Regions from separate parts of the Homo sapiens genome. Here region 1 is linked to region 2. The links come from fine-mapping of genetic effects on gene expression. A gene starts in region 2. The other region holds a variant in brackets. All regions are shown on one strand. Distances are from middle to middle.

Region 1 (2,925 bases), 320 kb before region 2:
GATTAGACTTAAACGTAAGACCTGAAACTGTGAGACTACTAAAAGAACATAAGGAAAAACAAATAAGTTATGACTTTCTTAGATTTGACCCCCAAAGCGCAGACAAAAAAAAAAAAAGTAAAAATAGACAAATGGGATTACATAAAAATAAAATCTCAAATAAAAAGTTTCTGCACAACAGGGAAAACAACAGAGTGAAGAGACAGCCTATGGATTGGGAGAAAATATTTGCAAGCCAGATGTTTGTTGAGGGGTTAATATTCAAAATATATTTAAAAACTCAAATTACTCTGTAGAAAGAAAATAATTATTCTAATTTAAAAATGAGAAAAGGATATGAATAGACTTTTCAAAAGAAGATATGGCCAACAGATATATGAAAAAATGTTCAAAATTGTTAATCATTAGGGAAATGCAAATGAAAAGCACAGTAAGATATCACCTCACACCCGTCAGAATGGCTGTTATCAAAAAGACAGATAAGTATAAGTGAGGACATGGAGAAAAGTGAACCCTTTTACACTGTTGGGAACATAAATTAGCACAGTCGTGCACTGCATGCCGACGTTTCAGTCAACTACAGAGAGCATATGTGGTAAGGTTCCTGTATGATTATAATGAAGCTGAAAAATTCCAATCGCCTAGTGACATCTTAATAATCCTAACCATGTGGAGGATTAACCTAATGTGTGTGTGTTTATGTCTTAGTTTTTAACAAAAACATTTAGAAAGTAAATTTTTAAAAATACAATAAATTTAAAATAGATAAAAGCTTGCAGAATAAGATTATGAAGATAGAAATATTTTTGTACAGCTGTACGATTTGTGTTTTGAACCATGTCATTACAAAGCAGTCAAAAGGATGATCAAAATTAAAAGTTTATACAGTAAAAATTTATAGCAAGCTGTTAAGGTATTATTGAAGAAAGAAAATTTTAATATAAATTTAGATTTGCATAAGTGAGTGTGTATAAAGTGTACAGCAGTGGACAGTAATGTTCTAAACCTTCACACTCTCTCATCACTCACTGACATCCAGAGCAACTTTCAGTCCTGCAAACTAAATTTATGGTAAGTGCCCTATGTAGATGTATCCTGTTTTTTATCTTATATACCATATGTTTACTGTATCATTGCTGTTTAGATTATTTAGATACACAAACACTTTCCACTGTGTTACAATTGTCCACAGTATTCAGTACAGTAATATTCTGTATTGGTTTATAGCTAGGAACAATAGGCTGTACCACATAGCCAAGTGTGAAGTCGGCTGTACTATCGAGGTTTTTGTAAGTACACTCTGTGATGTCTACACAATGACAGAATCATCTACCAATACATTTGTCATAACATATCCCCATCACTAAACAATGTAGACTGGACAGCCATTATGGAAAATTATAAGGAAGCTCCACAAAAACACTAAAAATAGAATGACCATATAATCTAGCACTTTCATTTCTGAGTATTTATGCAAAAGACTTAAAATTAGTATGTTGAAGAGATATTTGCACACCCATATTTATTGCAGCACTATTTACAACAGCTAAGTTGTGGGATCAACCTAAGTATTCATCAACAAATGAATGGAAAAAGAAAATGTCATATATATACATGCAATGGAATACCATTTAGCCTTAGAAAAGAA[A/C]AAAATTTTGTCATTTGTGACAATACGGTTAGAATTGGAGAACATTATGCGAAGTGACATAGGCCAGGCACGGAAATACAAACACTATACTGCATGTTCTCACTTACATGTAGAATCTGAAACAATTGAACTCAAAGAAGCAGAGCAAATTTTTTGTTATCAGAGACTACGGAGTGAGGGGGATGAGAGGGATAAGGAGATGACGGTGAAAGGGTAGAAAAACTTCATTAGACAGAAAAATAAGTATTTTTTTTTACTTTGAGATATATTACACAGCGTGATATCATAACTAATAATATATTCCACATTTCAAAATTGCTGAGAGTAAATTTCAAATATTATCACCACAAAAAAGATAAATATTTTAAGTGAATGTGTTAATTAGCTTGATTTAATTTTTCTACATTGTATTCATAAATTATGACATTGCTTTGTACCCTGTAAATATACACAACTATAATTTGACAATTTCCAATTAAAAAACTAAAATTTAAAACAAATAATACCTATTGCAAGTAAATAAAACCTAGTAAATATTTTAGTAATAATAAAGAAAATGAGTAAAAGACATGACCAGACACTTCACAAAATAATATGTACAAACAGCCAATGAACACATTAAAATGTGTTCAGCATCATCAGATATCAATAAAATATAAATAGAAACTCTCATAAGGTACCACTACACATTCACCAGAATTAGTAAAATTAAATACTGACACTACCATCACATTTTAGAAAAAATGTGGAGCTTTCATGTATTGTTGATAAAAGTGTAAAATGGTAAAGCCACTTTGTAAAATGACTTAGAAATTTCTCATAAAGTTACACATCTACTTATCCTATAATGCAGCAATTCCATTCCTGGGTATTTACTGAAATAATGAAAACATATGTCCACAAAATCATTTTATACAAGAATGCTCACAGTAGGGTTATTTATGATAGTAAAAATGGTGAAGCAATGCAAATATCAATTGACAAAGAATAATATACTCATATAATGGAACACTATTCAGCAATAAAAAGAAACTAATTAGTGATATAAGGAACAACATTAATGAGTCTCAAAACATGCTTAGTGAAACAAAGCCTCATCTTTGCACTTAAAATCCATCAGAAACTTCCAGTTGCCTTTAGGATAAAGTGAAAAATGCTAGCAGGCAAGGACCATAATCAGGTTCAAGTTGTATCTGCCAGTACTTCTCTCAGCACTCTTGTGTTTTAGTCATTATAGGGATTTGGAAACTTTTCTGTAAAGACACAGATAATAAATA
Region 2 (2,925 bases):
ATCATGCTGCTATAAAGGCACATGCACACATATGTTTATTGCGGCACTATTCACAATAGCAAAGACTTGGAACCAACCCAAATGTCCATCAATGATAGACTGAATTAAGAAAATGTGGCACATATACACCATGGAATACTATGAGGCCATAAAAAAGGATGAGTTCATGTCCTTTGTAGGGACATGGATGAAGCTGGAAACCATTATTCTCAGCAAACTATCGCAAGAACAAAAAACCAAACACCATATGTTCTCACTCATAGGTGGGAATTGAACAATGAGAACACTTGGACACAGGAAGGGGAACATCACACACTGGGGCCTGTTGTGGGGTGGGGGAAAGGGGGAGGGAAAGCATTAGGAGATACACCTAATGTAAATGACGAGTTAATGGGTGCGGCACACCAATATGGCACATGCATAGATGTGTAACAAACCTGCACGTTGTGCACATGTACCCTAGAACTTAAAGTATAATAAAAAATAAATAAATAATTGAGATAACTCAACAATCTGGTTTTTACACTTTATAAATTATTTTCTATTTACTTTATCTGGGTAGTTGCCTATTACCTTCACTGCCACTGAAACCTGACCTTTCATTCCTAGGGGAAAAAAAGGTATTTTATGATATATAATATGGTCATATAACTATACTATAAGCATTCATTATTTATTATTATTCTGAGTCAGGAATTGTGGGAGACCCAAACATTTATAAAATACAGATCTCCCTACAGCTCACAATATGGAGGAGGTTAGGAGACAAATTTCTGGGAGTGAAGGCTGTAATTCAGAGCTGTACAAGAGAAAATCAAAGAAATCCTTAGATAATCTGTCCAGAAGTTTCAACCAATAATGAAATTCAGGACTTATGAACTGAACTTTTCTGGGACCTATATCTTAGATCACTTATACCATTTAAATACTTTTTTCTTGTAACAATGACATTTTTTGACTAGATATGTCTTAAGGCTCCTGGCAAAAGATACAGGATATTTCTGATAAGGTTTGGTTTCAGAACTGAACTCTCCTCCGTGGAGACATTTAGGAAAATACAGCCAGAGAATTAAAACTGCAGTGATCAAGGCTTTTATCACACACCCATTTGCTAGGCCCATTTCCCCCATAAAATCAAGTTTCGTTGGAACGCAGAGCCCCGCTCATTCAAACCTCCACGGTGAAGTTGAGAAGTTGCCACACATTGCTGGGCACTCCTCACTGGACACCTCTGCGGGGCACTCTACAGACCTCAGGGCCGCGATCACCAACCTGCAGCGTTTCCAGTTCCCTTCCTTAATGCCCACCCCGCTCCTTCCTGGGTCGCCACGGAGGAGTCCAGAATCTGTCCTCTGTCGAGGGTTCCACGGACTCCGATACCTGCTCCAGCACCCCCAGCACTTACCCCATCTTCACCTGAGCCTTCTCAACTACGCGGCCCACCTTCTTCCCTCGTTCTGACCCCACTACAACAAGGCCCATGGCGGTGCCACCTCACGAGGAGAAGGACGATCACCTTGAGACCCATCGGCCTCTGAGGCCACGGACCACGCTGCCCCATGCTCCAGACGGCCGCTGGCTCCTCCTCACACTCACTCACACTTCAACCCCTGGGAAGACTGGCCTGCGGACCTACCGGCCGTGTCTCAGTAGGACAGAAAAAGTCCAGACAGCAGGAGCGCGACCCTCACACCCTCACAGCTCCGCCGCGTTCACCACGTGGGCAAAGGGGCCGACGGGAAGACGCCCAGGGCACATGCGCAGTGAGGTCGGTGCCTGCTCTGTGGGCTGTGGCGCCCCTCCTCGACCCTCCTCGCTCTACCCCATCCAGCGCCGCGCAGTCCTCTGCCCTCTCCCAGGTTCCCACTGAAGACTTTGGAATGTGTCTTCTGTGGGCGGTTTCATATGCCTCCGGGACTCAAATACCACAAATGGTTTCCCCCTTCAAAACTCCATGTTCACTCGGCCCTCCTCCTTTCTATGGCCCTCCTTCCTACCCTGTCTGGGACTCCCACGACAGCAAGGCCATGGCTGCGTCGCCGCCTGTTAGGAGAAGGACAGGGACCTCAAGGCCCTTCCCCCTAGGAGGCCATAGACTGCGCCGCGGGCTTCTCCTCACGCTCTCTCACACTTCAACTCTGGGAGGACTTATCTGCGGACCTAGTGGCTGACTCCTAGTCAGCAACACAGAAAGAAGTCACGATGTCTCCTTGCACAGCTCTGCGGGGACAGAAGGCAGACAGCAAGGCACATGGACAACAAGGGACTTGGGCAGCAAGGGGCATGCACACTGAGTCAGGCACATGCAAGGCCAGCCGCGGTTTTCCCTCTCTCCTCTCACCCCGGACTCGCATCCCTAAGGTGTTTGTAGCAGAAAGAAAGGGACTAAGAGGCTTTGTTCTCTCTCTTACCCTACCATTCTCATGCATCCAGAAACACTGGGAACAGACAGTCCCCATGTCACCATTAGTGGAGGATGTGTCTGAGAAAGACCTTTTGTGACAGAAATAAATTATTTTAATATCTTTAAAAAAAGAAAAAAGAAAACCTGAAAAAAGAATATGACAAACTAAAATTAGATGAAAGGAAAGACTGTCATTTTTCCTCATGTTTTATAAAATAGGTATTGCTTTGATGTGTTTTGTGAAATTATACTTTGAAATATCATGCTATTTTCCTTAACTTTGTTTACCAAAAGAAGGGTAAAAATGATAATTGATAAAGATCTTTCTCTTCAATTTAAAAATCCTGAAATTTGTTATTCTAATAAATCTCTCCATCAAAATGAATATACATTACAATTTACAACTCTGAGAGCCTATTTTGGAAAGTAGGTTTGTCTGATACTATGATATTAAGACATTTGAAAGGGTTTTTTTTCCCTTTAATAACACATTATTTGGCATTATTTTCATTCTTTTTATG

The links. PIP is the estimated chance that this variant, and not a neighbour inherited with it, causes the effect. A credible set is the group of variants that fine-mapping cannot tell apart.
Region 1: its variant is the best candidate, but not a certain one, in a credible set for the expression of MGC4859 in nasal epithelium (TOPMed, PIP 0.50).

What each region holds. Positions count from the first base shown.
Region 1 is chr7:10,460,856-10,463,780 of GRCh38, forward strand. All of the region lies in intron 2 of MGC4859 (a long non-coding RNA gene), which reads right to left. Among named protein-coding and RNA genes, the nearest start is that of MGC4859, 320 kb to the right of the region's middle. The variant A/C (reference allele first, on the strand shown) is at 1,649.
Region 2 is chr7:10,778,246-10,781,170 of GRCh38, forward strand. MGC4859 (a long non-coding RNA gene) reads right to left here and starts at 1,699. Exons shown (of 3, transcript NR_147499.1): 1 at 1,637-1,699.